Linked DNA regions of Homo sapiens: region 2 is linked to region 1. The links come from fine-mapping of genetic effects on gene expression. Tissue or cell type: whole blood. Region 1 holds a variant in brackets; the other region holds the start of a gene. All regions are shown on one strand. Distances are from middle to middle.

Region 1 (8,099 bases):
GGTCCCGGCATGCCGAGAACATGGACATGGGACAAAAAGGAACCTTTTTTTTTTTTTTGAGACGGAGTCTTGCTCTGTCACCCAGGTGGAGTGCAGTGGCACCCTGTCAGCTCATTGCAAACTCTGCCTCCCGGTGTTAAGCAATTCTCCTGCCTTAGCCTCCTGAGTAGCTGGAATTACAGGTGTGCGCCACCAGGACCAGCTAATTTTTGTATTTTTAGTAGAGACAGGGTTTCTCCACATTGGCCAGCTGTGCTCGAACTCCTGACCTCAGGTGATCCACCCACTTCTGCTTCCCAAAGTGCTGGGATTACAGGCGTGAGCCACTGCGCCCAGCCACAAAAGGGAAACTTTAAGCGAAACAAAACACAAGCATCCACAGCTGATCCTGCTTTGGGTCACCAGAGTGAGAATCTTCAAGTGTGCTCCACACCTGGGAGCTGCAACCTGCAACTGTTGGTCAAGGAGCCTCTCCTTGGGTCGCGGTGCAGCCCTGGGATGCCAGCCCCTGCTCCCCAGGGGTGTCAGGTGGTGGACACTCAGTGCCCAGGTGCAGTCCTGCCACCGCCCGCCATGCTTATAGTGTGTGCTCAGGGGTCCCCTTGGCCCAGACGGCCTCTGACTTTACTTCTGACATCCAAGCCCTGGTCCTTGCCCCAGTTTGGGAGGATCTCAGCCCCGCTGACTTGATGGCTTTCAGCTGCCTGAACTCTTACCCTAAAACTCTGCCTTAAAGCTCAGGGTGGCTTTACTGAAGCAACACACTCCCTCTTGAGGAAGGAGCCAGTCTGTCCCCTTTGTTTTGCCAGAGGCTCTATGTCACCTAGCATGGTGTCTGGGATCATGGCGACCAAGACACTGAATCCTCCAGCCTGCTCCGGGCGGATCAAGGCACAGGCCCACTGGCCCCAGCAACCTACACGGCCTCTGTTTCCCCTTCAGCACGATGGGAGAGATTGCAAAGCTTCCCAAGAGCTCAGGTCCAAGCCTCTCCAGGAAGTCCGCCACTGAATGTTTTTCCTAGAACAAGTTCCCACCACACTCCTCTTTTATCACCCCTCCCCGGTATCTTGTTTTTCCCATCACAATCCCCAAGCTGGGGAAGAAACTTTTCTTCCTGAAAGGCAGCCTGAAGTAGAAGCGTGGCCTGCTGAACTCTGCAGAGCCCGGATGTGTTTCAGTATACGACAGAGGTGCACCTCTCCATGGGTGCACCAAGGAGAGGACCACAGACATGCCACAGGAGGTGGAGGCTATGGGGATAGGGGCCCAGAAAGAGAGCACTGAGGAGGCCTCAGACATGAGGGGGCTGCAGATGCACCAAGAAGAGGACATGGCGTGGGGGGCACAGGCACACATGTCATGGGAAGCCACCAACACACCACATGGGGCCACATTCTGGAGCCACCACAGAAGGGGGTCTCTAGGGGGCCACAGAACCACCTGTGGGGTCCCAGATTCCACCTTCCTCTCACCAGAGAATTCTGTTTCACTTCATTTACAGGGTGGGCTTCTAGGTAAGACTTCTTCTAAAGGAAGTTTCTGTGGATTTCATGAAAACAACTGGCATGAAGGTGAAAAGCAAAGCTCTCTATCCAAAGACGTCATGATTCCCAACCCAGCCTCTCCCTGTGACGGCACCAGCTTGAGTGGGCAGCCAGGATGCCGACTGGCTCTCTCCGTGCTGGGGTGGGGTCAGGGCTATAGCCCACGGAGGAAGCCAGAGGGAGAACTTTAAAGCGGGGCAAAGTCCCAGTTCCCCAGTCCCATGGGAATGAACCCCAGTCGGGAGAAACAAGAAGAAACTTTCCTAGATGGCTTCTCATGAAGGTGCAGAGCAGGACCCAGCAGCGGCCGGAGACAGGCAGATCCAGCGTCAGGGCACAGGCCTCGTGACAACAGACCATGGGCAGGAGAACACACAGGAACGAGGGTGAAGTGGAACATTCCAGAAACACCACCGCTTGCCACCGTGGGGGACAGTGTGGGACTGCCAGCACCAAGCATCTGTGAGGAAGGGTCCAGGCTGCCTCTGGGCTTAGAGGCTTCCAACTTCCTGAGGACCCGATGACTAAAGTGTTGAGCCATGTAATAGGTATCAACTCCACTTCCTCACGCAGGCGAGAGAGGGTCTGCTTGTAGTCACACACGCAGCGTAAGACCAAGCCTTTGACTGTGTCGAATGGACAGCTTGTCATCTGCCTGCTGGAAGTTTAAGTTGCAGCAATTCACTCATTCCTCAGGCTGTGCAAACACTGAGCTGCTCATCTCGCCACAAGGGAAGATTAGTGATATGGTTTGGATTTGTGTCACCCCTAAATCTCATGTCAAGTTGGAGGAGGGGCCTGGTGGGAGGTGATTGAATCCAAGGGGCCAACTTCCCTTGCTGTTCTCATCATAGTGAGATCTCACGAGATCTGACGGTTTAAGTGTGTGCAGCACTTCCCCCTTCGCTCTCTCTCTCCTGCTCCACCACAAGATGTACCTTGCTTCCCCTTCTGCCATGATTGTAAGTTTCCTGAGGCTTCCTACCCATGCTTCCTGTTAAGCCTGTGAAACTGAGTGAATTAAACCTCTTTTCTTCATAAATTACCCAGTCTCAGGTAGTTCTTTATAGCAGTGTGAGAATGGATGAATACAGAAAATTGGTACCAGGAAAGTGGGGCATTACTACAAAGATACCTGAAAATGTGGAAACAACTTTGGAATTGGGTCATGGGAAGAGGTTGAAACAGTTTGGAGGACTCAGAAGAAATAGGATGATGTGGGAAAGTTTGGAACTTCCTAGACTTGTTGAATGGTTTCAACCAAAATGCCGATAGTGATATTGACAATGAAGTCCAGGCTGAGGTGGTCTCAGATGAAGATTAGGAACTTATTGGGAACTGGAGTAAAGGTGACTCTTGCTATGCTTTAGCAAAGAGACTGGTGGCATTTTGCCCCTGCCCTAGAGACCTGTGGAACTTCAACTTGAGAGAGATGATTTAGAGTATCTGGTGGAAAATATACCTAAGCAGCAAAGTGTTCAACATGTAACCATGTGACCTGGCCGTTTCTTTGTTTTATTATTTTTATTTATTTATTTATTTTTGGAGACAGATTCTTGCTGTCACCCAGGCTGGAGTGCAGTGGAGCGATCTCAGCTCACTGCAACCTCCACTTTCTGGGTTCAGGCAATTTTCCTGCCTTAGCCTCCAGAGTAGCTGGGACTACAGGCACACATCGCCACACCCAGCTAATTTTTTTTTTTTTTGTATTTTTAGTAGAGACAGGGTTTCACGTGTTGTCCAGGCTGGTTTTGAACTCCTGAGCTCAGGCAATCCACCTGCCATGGCCTCCCAAAGTGCTAGGATTACAGGCATGAGCCACTGCACCCGGCCAACCTGGCTGTTTCTAAAAGTGTATGCTCATATGCGTGAACAAAGAGATTATATAAAGCTGGAATTTATATTTAAAAGGGAAGCAGAGCATAAAAATTTGGAAAATCTGCAGCGCAGCCATGTGGTAGAAAAGAAAACCCATTTTCTGGGGAGAAATTCAAGCTTGCTGCAGAAATTTGCTTGTAAAGATGAGCCAAATAGCCAAGACAATGAGGGAAATGTATCCAGGGCATGTCAGAGACCTTCATGGAAGCCCCTTCCACACAGGCCCAGAGGCCTAGGAGGGAAAAATGGTTTCATGGGCCAGGCCCAGGGCCCAGCTGTTCTGTACAGCATCAGAATATGGCATTCTGCATCTTAGTTGCTTCAGCTCCAGCTGTGGCTAAAAGGGGCCAAGGTACAACTTGGGCCATGGCTTCAGAGGGTGCAAGGCCCAAGCATTGGTGACTTCCACATGGTGTGGGGCCTGCAGGTGCACAGAAGTCAAGAGCTGAGGTTTGGGAACCTCTGCCTAGATTTCAGAAGATA[T/C]ATGGAAATGCCTAGATGTCCAGGCAGAAGTCTGCCTGCAGAGTCCTCATGGAGAACCTCTACTAGGGCAGTGCAGAGGAGAAATGTGGGGTTGGAGCCCCCACACAGAGTCCTCACTGCAGCACTGCCTAGTGGAGCTGTCAGAGGAGGGCCACTGTCTTGCAGATCTCAGAATGGTAGATCCACTGACAGCTTGCACCATGCACCTGGAAAAGTCACAGGCACTCAACACCAGCCCATGAAAGTTGCCATGGTGGCTGTACCCTGCAGAGCCACAGAGGCAGAGCTGCCCAAGGCCATGGGAGCCCACTCCTTGTGTCAGTGTGGCCTGGATGTGGGACACAGAGTCAAAGGAGATCACTTTGGAGCTTTATGGTTTAATGCCTGCCCTGCTGAGTTTTGGACTCGCATGGGGCCTGTAGCCCCTTTCTTTTGCCCAATTTCTTCCATTTGGAATGGAAGCATTTACCCAATGCCTATACCCCCATTATATCTTGGAAGTAACTATTTTTTATTTTACAGGATCATAGCTGGAAGGGACTTATCTTGTCTCAGATAAGACTTTGGACTGTGGAGATTTCAGTTAATGCTAAAATGAGTTAAGACTCAGGGACTGTTGAGAAGGGATAATTGCATTTTGCAATGTGAGAAGGACGTAAGCTTTGGGAAGGGCCAGGGGTCAAATTTTGTGGTTTAGATTTGTGTACCCACCCAAATCTCATGTTGAATTGGTGAGAGGCCTGGTGGGAGGTGACTGAATCCAGGGGGCTGACTTCCCCCTTGCTGTTCTCATGATAGTGAGTTTTCATGAGATCTGAAAGTTTTAAAGTGTGTGGTACTTCCCCCGTCACTCTCTCTCTCCTGCTCCACCATAGGAAAATGTGCGTTGCTTCCCTTTCACCTTCCACCATGATTATAAGTTTCCTGAGGCCTCCCAGTCATGCTTCCTGTTAAGCCTGCAGAACTGAGTCAATTAAATCTTCTTTCTTCATAAATTACCCAGTCTCTGATAGTTCTTTATAGCAGTGTGAAGACAGACTAATATAATTAGAAAGTACACAGAGACCTAACTTTAGGTTCATTTCCAGAAGAGGGCCTGACCTGCTGCTCAGGGGTTAGTATTTCTTGCTTAGTCTTGTCTTTCTCATGGAGACACAGGCATACACACTTTCTCCATCTTCACATCCAGCTTCACTAATGGGTCATACTTTCCTTTCATTCCAAAATTTAAGCCAAATAAAAACTAGCCAGAACATTGGGCAATTGTTCTCCAAAAGGGAAATAAAAGAAGTCATTTATCTCAGCAGAAAGTATAACAACTCTGTTATGAGTTTATGGGTGAACCCAGGAATTGCCTTCCCTTTGGATCACCCCTTATGGCTCTAGTTCTGCCCAGAAACAGAAGGTTCAAGCCCTGGCCAACCAAAGCCAAGAGCTGCCCTCAGTCCTCATTCCTTGCTGGAAAACGGGCAGCCATATCCTTTTTCACAGAGGTGCAGAGGTCAAGTTAGTCACAGCTCAGCTCAGGATGTGGTTCTGAGGAGGCGACTGACAGGTGGCAATCGTCACTGATGCCTTGTTGCTGTTCTTCTCCAGTGACCATCGTCAGCCTCTGATTTATTCCCAGGCACCAGCAGCCAGGCTTCAGTCATCAGCCTTGCCCAGCTGAACACAGCTCCTGCTCTTGGACAGAGGAGGGTGGGTTTCAGGAGGGCAGCCACTCAGTCCCGCAGCTCGGGCCCAGGCTACCATGCTTCCTCTGGGCAGACCACTCTGTCCCTCAGTGAGCAGAGGGCTGGCATGTTAATGTCCCACTTGGAATTACTGAATTGACTCCCATCATCCTTGTATTCCTCTCTCTGTTCCTTCCCAGGACATAGCAATGCCTGAAGGGAGGAGCCTGTCCATGCCATCTGCCCCTCAGACACCAGCTCCGGCGGCGTGGATGCTGCTGCCTTCCAGGTGGCTGGGAGCCCGCTCTCACGTTTGGGGGTTAATGTCTGTGGAAAGGGAGGGTGCCCAGTTCACATGGGATTTTGCTCCCCTGACACAGAACGCAAGGATGCTGTGAGCTGAGAGTGAAGTCATTGTCCACCTCCCAGGGGCCACACTGCAGGTCCAAGTACAGAAAAGAGAGTGTCTTAAAGGAAGCCTTTGACTCTCTTTGGCTGAGTTTATGGAAAGGAAAATGAATCAAGCCCAAAATGGCCAGTAATGGCAGGGTCATTATTCCTTAAATGAAGCTCCACCTGCCTTTCCAACGAGGCAAGAACCAAATGCGTCCTTTGAAAGGAGGGCTCAGAGGTGCGGGTGCAGAACCCCATGCTCTCTTGAAGCGGTGTGGCCTGTCCCCAAACTGAGAGTCCCCATCTTCAAAACGGAGAGTTTGGTCACTTGAATTTTGTTGACATTTCTTACCTTGGGAAGCAGCTGGCTTCGTGCTGTTCGAAGTTGACCTCCTTTGCTCCAGATGGGAAGTGCCCCCAAAGCTGGCATGAACAGCTGTCACTCCCTAAGAAACTGCAGCTTTTTCTGAGGGCGGGAGCAGGTGCTCACCGATTTCCTTCTGTGGCGTGATCCTGAAGGAGCTAAGAGCCCACCACCCCAAAGGCATTGCTCTGGCTTTAAGCTGATCGCCATTCCATGTCTTAAAAGCAGGAGACGAAATTCTCATGTGAAAGATGCCCTCCCCATACGTTTGGGAAAGCATCTTTCTTATCAACAGTGGGAGGCCCAGACCCAGAGAGATTTCAGCATAGCCTCCTTAAAATCACTCTTCTTGGCAGCCTCCGCACACAATGTATTTTTCACAGCTTACTACTCCACCTCCAATTCAGGGTGCACAAAAGTTCTTTGAAAAGGAATGTAGAGGAAAGACTATTCCTATGAACAGTTTGTGAAGTGGGAGATGCTGCCTTCAGCGTAAAACCAGGATGCTTTCCAGAGAACAAAGAGAGGGTCCAGCTTTTATACTGAAAGTTCTCACATAGGTTCGCTTATGCAAATGAAAAATTCAAACTTCCTGTGTTCTGATGGGTTGGTTCAGGGGAGCTCTGGAAGTCCCAAAGTTTAACAGAGGTATGGGATTTCAAGGAACTCCGGGTACCCGTGTGACCTCTAGTCAGCAAACGGTCACTGGGCTCTATGAGGATTTAGGGCCGGTGAGCCACTAGAGATCCACCCATCCACTTCTTGCAAGTCCTGTTTGCTCACATGGGTGTGAGTGTCCAACTCTGTGGCTTTAGGGCATTCCTTCCATGGGAGGCTCTCCCACCATATAGAGCTTCCTTTAAATAAGCTTCCGTGCTTTCCTCCTGTTGATCTTTCTGCGTCAGTTAAATTCTCCGGTGCAGCCTGAGAGTCTGTACACAGGTGATCATATTCACAGGTTAATGTGCTCACAGGTGAATGTACGGGGAGGTGAATGTGTTCACAGGTGAATGTACTGGGATTAAATGTGCTCACAGGTGAATGAATGTACTGGGAGGGGAATCTGTCACAGGTGAATGTACTGGAAGGTGAAGGTGCTCACAGGTGAATGTACTGGGAGATGAAGGTACTCACAGGTGAATGTACTGGGAGGTGAAGGTACTCACAGTGAATGTACGAGTAGGTTATGTGCTCACAGGCGAATGTACTGGGAGGTGAAGGTGCTCACAGGTGAATGTACCAGTAGGTTATGTACTCACAGGTGAATGTACTGGGAGGTGAAGGTGCTCACAGGTGAACACATTTGGAGGTGATGGTGCTCACGGTGGAAGTATTTGGAGTATACCTGTGTATGTCTGTTCTTGCAGTGCTCTAAATACCTGAGAAATCTTACAATCATTGTGGAAGTCTAAGGGGAAGCAGGCACATCTTCACTTGACCAGAGCAGGAGGAGGAGAAAGAGAGGGTAGGTGCCATATGCTTTTTAACAGATCTCATGAGACCTCTATGAGAACATCAGCCAAGGAAGAAATCAGCTCCCACGATCCAATCACCTCCCACCATGCTCCACCTCCAGCTTTGGGGATTACAATTCAACATGAGGTTTGTGTGGGGACACAAATCCAAACCATATCATTTCACCCCTGGCCTCTCCCAAATCTCATGTCCTTCTCATATTGTAAAATAAATCATCCCTTCCCAACTGTCCCCCAAAGTCTTAAGTCAGCACTAACTTAAAAGCCCAAGTCCAAAGTCTCATCT
Region 2 (8,099 bases), 240 kb after region 1:
ACCCCTACGGGGCCCAAAGAAGCTGCTCAGCCTATAGGCCGTCAAAGGACATTCAGCTGCCAGGGGTGGGTGGACACCTGACAGGTCCAGCTGCAGGACACCTCAGTGCTGGGACCCGGCATCCTCACACTTGGCCTCGGAGGCCTTTTCATGTCTGCTGCTGTCCGCGTGAGTCCATTGCTCCCCCCGCTCCCCGTGCCTCTGTCTTCAGCATGGGGCCTCCCAATGGACCTGGGCTCCTGTCCTGGTCTCCCACTGCAGACCCAGATGGCCCAGCATCTCCCACCATCCCTTCCACCCAGGGCTTCCAGTGCTACCCACCATGCTGTGTCTGCTCTTCCCAACCTCCACTGTCAGCCTGAACCTCTACCCACAAAACCCAACCCCAAACCCAGGCAGGGGTGGGCGCGGGTGCCAGGCAGCAGGGGCTTGTCCCGGAGAGCTGTCCTCCTCCTATGTGACAGCTGCCTGGCCTGGTGCTCCCAACTGCGGACGCAGAACCTGTGCAGGAAGCCGTGGAAACAGCTACAAGCAGGCAGGTGTCCCGGGGAACGCTCCTGGTCACTGACACGGTAACACAGGTGGAGCTGGGAAAAGCATTGGTGCTGGGGTGGTAGTGACCCCCACCCAAGAAAGTCACATTGACCCGGAACCTCAGAGTAAGACCTTACGTTAAAATAGGATCTTTGTAGATGTAATTCGATTAAAGATCTTGAGATTATCCCAGCTTCTCCTGGCGGCCCTTAAATCCAGTGACAGGTGTCCCGATAAGCAAAGGAAGAGACAGACACACTAACTCGGGGGAGGAGGCCCCGTGAGGACAGGGGCAGAGGTGGAGCCATGCGGCCACCACCCAGGACCGCCTGGAGCCACAGAAGCTGGAAGAGGTGGGAACCTCCGGAGCGCACAGGCCTTGATCTCGGACTTCTGGCCTCCTAAGCCGTAAGAGGAAAGCCCTGTTGTTCAACCCATTTGTAGTGATTTTCTAAGGATCCCCAGGAAACATCTTATAACGGGACACTTGGCGTGGATCACATCATTGGCTGTGAGTCGGTTTTCAGTAATTGCAGGGTTAATGGAGGCTGTCCAGGTCTGGCAGTGGAGCAAGAGCTGGGGGCCAGGAAGGGCCACCGGACGGGCAGCCATGGCCAGGTGAAGAGCCTGGAGTCCCGAATCAGGATCCACCTCTCCCTGCTGAGCAAGATCCTGTGCCCCTGTTTCTGGTGATTTTGTAAGTGCTGACTGAACCGACTGTCGCTGGGAAATAACACACCCGTGACCCCAAGCCAAAGTTTCACCCACAGACAAGGAAACAGACTCCATGAACACGCCGACTCCCGACGGTAGAACCGGGGTGCCCACCCCAGCCCCGGTCACTGTGTGTCCTGCGCAGGGGCCAGGGCAGCCCAAGGCTCAGCTCTGTCCTCCTGCCCAGACCTCGCTCAGCCCCCTGGACGCCGCCCCGCGCCCGCTGCCTCTCCTCTCCTCTCCTCCCAAAGGCTCCAGGACCATGTCTGCCTCTGAAGCCTGACGTTACCTCCCACTGCGATTTTATTGTAAACTCACTGCATTTATGTCAAGAGAGTTTGTACAGGTTTTGGAAAATGCACTGAAGAGTCCCCTTGTGCCTATTAGGACGGTAAGAACACACCAAGGAGAGATTATTTCATTATTTCTTTGATGCTGTTAGTAGGATCTACCCGAGGGGGAGGCACTCCGGGCTCCGCGGGACGAGAAGGCAGCCGAGCCCGCACCCGAGCAGGAGGGAAGCAGGAGCCGCAGCGTGGCCGCCGCACAGCTTCGGGGGTCCCCCGACTTCCCAGCTGCGAGTGTGGAATTTCTCAGGAGAACTAGACAGAAGCCCATCTCTGGGCAGCACTGAGTGGAAGGAGAAACCACAGGAGAGGAGAGGAAGTGTGGGGCGCGGGACCACCGTGGGGTGGGTGGGGGCCAAGCCGCCGGGCTGTGAGGCCTCAGCACCCCCTGCCCAGCACCCAGCACCCCAACTTCCCCTTCTGCCTTTGCGGATTCCAGGGCCTGCTGGACACCTGGTGCAGGGACAGAGCCGGGGCTGGGGGAGGAGCTCAGCTGCACTAGAGTCCAGCTGGAAGAGTCCAGCTGAAAGTCACCAGAGGCACCCCTTCCTCCTGGGGGGCTGCGCCTCGGCCTCCTCCAGGGCAGGTGCCCCTATGCCCCTCAAGTCCCAGCACCCAGCACCACAGAACCGCCCTGTCATCTCGGCCCCGGAACCTTGTGGGGAGCCAACTCCTGCGGAGGGCCGGGCAGCCCCGGGCGGAATGAGCCCCCTCCGCAAAGCCTGTCTGGGGAGCGGGGGAGGGGCGGCAGGTGCCCGGAGAAAGGCGAGATTGGAAGAGCGGCCGGGATGGTGGCGCTGCATACGGGCGACCTGCAGGGAGAACGGAAGCTGAGGCCGGGGTCAGGGGTGCGCGCTCCGCTCCTCCACTCCTGCGTGAAGGGCGGCCCACTCCCGAGCAGCTGCGCTGGGCGCCCGGCACGGACCCGTCTCCCTGCTCAGGTCGATCCCCGGCCGCGCTGCCCCCACCTGGAAGCCCAGTCCCCTGGGTGCGCCCCGCCTTGGGGTCCGAGCACCCTCACAGCCCGGCCCTGCCGCTTCCCTGCACCGTCTGCGGCTCCTTAAAGAACTGGGCGCGGTCGGGGCTCGCCCCGCACCGTCCTCGAGGCCCCGCCGCCAACCCACCCCACCCCAGGAGGCCGCGGCCGCGCTCATCCATCCCCCGCCGCACCGTCAACGCGCGTCCTGCGGGGCGGAGAGATCGGGGTCCGGTCGTCCCCGGGGGGCCCCAGAGCCAGGTGAGGGGCCCCGCCGCCCCCTGCCCAGCGGTTCCCACGACCCGCGGGTCGGCCGCGCCCTGCGCTGAGCGGATACCCGGCGGTCCGCGGGGCCTGAGCAGAGTCGGCCTTGTAAGGCAGAGGTCTCGGTGCGCCCGCGCGTCCCCGGGCCGGGTGGGGCGGCGGGGGCGGGGCTGCCAATGAGCGCGCGGGGCGGGACGCTGGGCGGGCGCCGGACGCTGGGGGCCGGGGGCGGGCCCGGGACCGGGCTGGGCGGGGCTGGGCGGTGCTGGGCGGGACGGGCGGGCGCGGGGCGGCGGCTGGAGAGCTCCGCTGAGCACCGGGTCGCGCGCGGCCGAGTCGCGGAGGCGCCTCCGCTGCAGTCGCTGCGTCTCCAAGGTAAGCGGGCGCGGGGCTCGGTCCCGCGGGCGCGGCGCGGGGGGCACCCGGGGGCGGAGACTGGGCCCGTCAGCCCCAGCAGCCACCTGCGCCGCAGCCCCTGCCCCCCGCGCTCCCCCGAGCCCCCTTCCCGGACCGCCCCGCGCGTCCCTGAGCCCCCGGATTGGGATGCCCGGAGTTCGGCGCTGCGGGCTCGGTGCGAGGACGCGACGGGGAGGCTTTGCAAAGGCCGCGAGCGGGGGTCACCGTCGGCCGCGCCAGGGACAGGTCTGTCACCGTCTCCGGGCCCTGTGCCTGGCGCTTTGGCCTTTCTTCGCGGCCACGGACGCCCCTGCAGCCCTTCCCTCCAGACCCTCCCCAGCTCGGGACTCGAACCGTTTCCCTATTCCCAGGCCTAGGGGGCCGCCGGTGTGAGGCGTGGGAAATTAGGGCGTGGAGGGCTGGAATGAAGTCACTGCCCGCAGCAGGTTTTGAGAGATCCCTGGCCACAGAAACGGCCCATCTCAGGGTCCTGACACCACCGCGTCCTGGCAGGTGGGGCTGTCAGACCGCCCCCCGCAGAGCCTCCAGCTGCCCCGGGTCTTGGCTACTGTCCGCGGGCCTGTGGCGATGGAGAGGCGCTGCCGGGACACCTTCCCGCACCCCTGGGAGCAGCGCCCGAAGATCTGAGGAGCCCTTTATTCTGCGGTTTCGGTTACGTAAACGGAGCCGAGGGAGGTGAGAAGCCTGTCCCTCCCGGGCAGTGGCGGGGCTGCTGTTTTGATAAGGGTTTTGGGGGGGCTGTTGTCTTGATGGGGGTTTGGGGGGCTGCTGTTTTGATAGGGGTTGGGAGGCTGCTATTTTGATACGGGGTTGGGGGCTGCTGTTTTGATAGGGGTTTGGGGGGCTGCTGTTTTGATAGGGGGTTGGAGGGCTGCTGTTTTGATAGGGTTGGGGGACTGCTGTTTTGATAGGGGGTTGGGAGCTGCAGTTTTGATAGGGGTTTGGGGGCTGCTGTTTTGATAGGGGGTTGGGAGGCTGCTGTTTTGATAGGTGGTTGGGAGGCTACTGTTTTGATAGGGGGTTGGGGGGCTGCTGTTTTGATAGGGGTTGGGGGCTGCTGTTTTGATAGGTGGTTGGGGGCTGCTGTTTTGATGGGGTCTGGGGGGCTGCTGTTTTGATGTGGGGTTGGGAGGCTGCTGTCTTGATGGGGGCTTAGGGGGGCTGCTGTTTTGATAGGGGGTTGGGGGCTGCTGTTTTGATAGGGGTTGGGAGGCTGCTGTTTTGATAGGGGTTGGGGGGCTGCTGTTTTGATGGGGTCTGGGGGCTGCTGTTTTGATGAGGGGTTGGGGGCTGCTGTTTTGATACGGGTTGGGGGGGCTGTTGTCTTGATGGGGGTTTGGGGGGCTGCTGTTTTGATGGGGGTTTAGGGGGCTGCTGTTTTGATGGGGGTTGAGGGCTGCTGTTTTGATGGGGGTTGAGGGCTGCTGTTTTGATGAGGGTTGGGGGCTGTTTTGATGGGTATTTGGGGGCTGCTGTTTTGATGGGGGTTGGGGGCTGCTGTTTTGATGGGGGTTGGGGGCTATTGTTTTGATGGGGTTTGGGGGGCTGCTGTTTTGATGGGTATTTGGGGGCTGCTGTTTTGATGGGGGTTGGGGGCTGCTGTTTTGATGGGGTTTGGGGGCTGCTGTTTTGATGGGGGTTGGGGGCTATTGTTTTGATGGGGGTTGGGGGGCTGCTGTTTTGATGGGGTGTTGCGTTCCCTCTCAGTGTCACCGCTGATCCACCTGGCATGTTTATTGGCTCTTCTGCTTGCAGGGCCCCTGGGGGACCGATAGAGGACTGGGCCCCTCCGCCCACCCCGGCCACCCCTCCCCGCCTGACTTCTCAGGGGGAGAGGTCTCCCCCCACGCCCAGCCAGCCCCTGCCCCTGGGAGGTGACCCAGCTCCCTGTGGCCTGGGACTAGGAGATGGGGCTGGACCAAGGCCGGGAAGGGGCAGGAAGTGGAGGGGAGTGAGGCAGCTGCAGCCTGATGCCGCCGCCTTGAACTGGGCTCTCGCGCCTGTCAGCCGCTCGGTGCCAGCGCCTCCCCACCACGTGATCCTCGGAGGGCCTGTGGGGGAGGGGCGGGCTCCCGGAGCGGCTGCAGAAGGCGAGCTCCAGGAGGGTGTGTGCGTTTTCCCGGGAGGGGTCTGCAGCTTTCATGGTTTCTAAACGGATCTCTGATTCAGAAAGGCGCCGGCATGAACTCGCTTTGCATCTTCACAAAACATGAAGTCATGGGGATTGGACCGCGTGTGCGTGGAGGAAGCTCCGCTGGTCACTGGCTGCGTTTTAATCTTACAGCTGCGGTTGGTCTATCTTCCCGAATTCCCTGAAGTTGCAATAAATGTTTTAGCGATTATACGAGGTTATAAATGCTCGTTGTGGAAATGAGCATAGAATGCTCACAGAAATGGTCAACAGGGGCTTCCTTTTGACCCCCTACCCTAATTTGCAAGCCTCACACTGGCAGTGGCTGCCCTAGGCCTGGGAATCGGTAAACAGGGTTCGTGCACCGGGCTGGGCAGGGCCCGGAGGGAGGGGCCGCAGGGGGCTTCCGTGGGCACAAAGGCCAAAGCGCCACACGCAGGGCTCAGGAGAACTTCCTGAAGAAAATTAGGATCACCCATCGCAGATGGAGACTGGGGAGCTCTCTGGAGAGTCAGGCAGTCTGTTCCCTCCCAGGCCTGTGGGAGCCACCCCCTGCAGAGGACGCAGAGAATTAAAAGCTTCCTCGGGAGAGGCCGTGCCAGCAGAGAGCCGAGTCTATTTATAGCTGTTGGTGAGACAGGGGGAGTGTGTGAGAGGGATGCCATCTGGGGCTCTTGGGGCCCCCAGGCCAGTGCTGGTCAGCGCCCTGCAGTACCTGGCCCAGCCTGGTGCCCTCAGGCAGAAGCGCCTTCGGGAAAACACTCTGGGTGAGGAGAGTCGCTCAATGCCTCCGCCTGGGCTGGGGGAGCCAGAAGGCTATGCCCAGGAGGGTTGTGGCCGGGTGTCTAGTCCATCTGAGCCCACAAACCCTCAGCCAGGAGCCAGGATCAGGCAGCAGAATCTACACACGCCTAGTTCCTACTGCTCGAGCAAAAGGTGTTTCCTGGGAAGGAAGGGGTGGAGCTGCCTGGGTCAGGCCCAGCCACATCTGGGGCTCAGGCCTTGTCCCCAGCATCCACGAGCCAAACCCCAAGCTGCCCTGCGTGGATCCTCCTCCTAGGGAGACCAGCTTCTTCTTGGTGTGTGTGTGTTTGGGGTTGCCACAGGGCCATAACCCACTGCATCCCCCTGATAAGATCTTCCACCCAGGGCAGCCCCCACCCAGGGCAGCCCCCACCCAGTTGATCCCCCACCCAGATGATCCTCCACCCAGATGATCCCCCACCCAGATGATCCCCCACCCAGATGATCTGCCACCTGGATGATCCCCCACCGGGGACATCCCCCACCCAGGGCAGCCCCCACTCAGATGATCCCCCACCCGGGGCAGCCCCCACCCAGATGATCTCTCACACAGGGCTTCCCTCCTAGGGCATCTGCAACAGGCTTTCCCCCTAAGGTGACATCCCCCTCCCAGGACATCCACATCCCAGAGCCACCCCCTCCCAGAGCCACCCCCTAGGCCATTCCTTCACCAAGGCTCCACCACCCAGGACAACCCCCACAAAGATTCCCCACCCAGAGCATCCTCCCCACATGGCATCTCCACCCAGGGTATTCCCCCACCCAGGGCATGTTCCCCACATGGCATCCCACGTTTGACTTCTTGGCATGATAAAAGGTGCCTGCCCATGTGGGCTCCATGAGATCCCCCAGGGCGCATGGCATCACAGACCACATTTCCCAGATCCTATAACCTGTAACCCCAACCTGCTCGTTTGTTCACAAATGTCCAACGTGGCCTCCGCCCAGGGAGTGCCACCAACAGCCGCACCTGCCAGGCGACTTCACACAGCTGCTGTCCCCCTCTGGCCATCAGTCATCAGTCAATGGGGCCAGGAGCAGTGAGCACCGTGTATGGGGTATGGAGGTGGCTTCAAACCCAGGCCCTGGTCCAAGGGCCCTCATGTCTGACACAGGCGAGCTCCCAGCACCCTCTGCCTTGTCAGGAGTATGTGACATGCCTTCCTGGCCCACAGAGGTGGGTGAAGTGTGCGTACCTCAGCGTGCCCATGGCTGCCACTCACTGTTCACCCACTCACACTGGATCCCCGCCCAGAAACACACCAGGCCAGTCCCACCCCACTCAGAAGTGCTGCTGGTGCCTCAGGGCCAGGGAGCCATGTCCAGGCCCCAGCCAGCCCCGGGGACCTGACCCAGCCCCTCCCCCTGAGCCCAGGGCACCGCTGCACAGCCACCTGCATCTCCCACCCATGGCATCTCGCAGGTGACCTGGCCACCGTGGCTGCATCTGGGGCGTCCACCCTCTCCTGCGCACACCGGCCCCCGCTTCTCCTAAGGCTGCCCAAGGGCCGGTTTTCTCTGCCCCTCGGCGGGGTGGCACCTCTGCCTTCTCAGTGCCTGAGGAGCCTGGGCCATGGACAGAGCCACTGGGGTGAAGCTCATCTCAGCCTCACCTCCCACCAGGCTTGTTCCTGCCACCTTCGTCAGTGCCCACGTGTCCCCAGGCCGCCTGCTGGGAGGGCCCCACCTGGCACCTGGCACAGTCCACCTGCAGTTCTAGTGCCAGCCGTTCTGGGCCGCCTCTCTTCGTGTTCCGGGAGTGGGATGGGGTCTTACTCACCGTCCGTTTTCCCGTCGAAGCTGCAATTCCTGAGCACTGTGCTTTGGCTTTGCCTGTTTTTAACCTTTAACCAGAAGCCACGTGGTGGGCACACTGCTGTGCTGGCTAACGTGGATCAATACTGTGCGCGAG

What was found. PIP is the estimated chance that this variant, and not a neighbour inherited with it, causes the effect.
Region 2: it holds the start of TPPP, and the variant in region 1 is fine-mapped to the expression of TPPP in whole blood (TOPMed, PIP above 0.99).

The regions. Positions count from the first base shown.
Region 1 is chr5:930,159-938,257 of GRCh38, reverse strand. No RefSeq gene overlaps it. Among named protein-coding and RNA genes, the nearest start is that of TRIP13, 41 kb to the right of the region's middle. The variant T/C (reference allele first, on the strand shown) is at 3,909.
Region 2 is chr5:688,389-696,487 of GRCh38, reverse strand. TPPP (tubulin polymerization promoting protein) reads left to right here and starts at 3,136. Exons shown (of 4, transcript NM_007030.3): 1 at 3,136-3,210. It overlaps LOC101929898 (a long non-coding RNA gene), which reads right to left and starts at 2,948. Exons shown (of 2, transcript XR_925675.4): 1 at 2,766-2,948; 2 at 1-2,407. RefSeq lists enhancers at 1,336-2,214, 3,128-3,710 and a silencer at 2,884-3,133.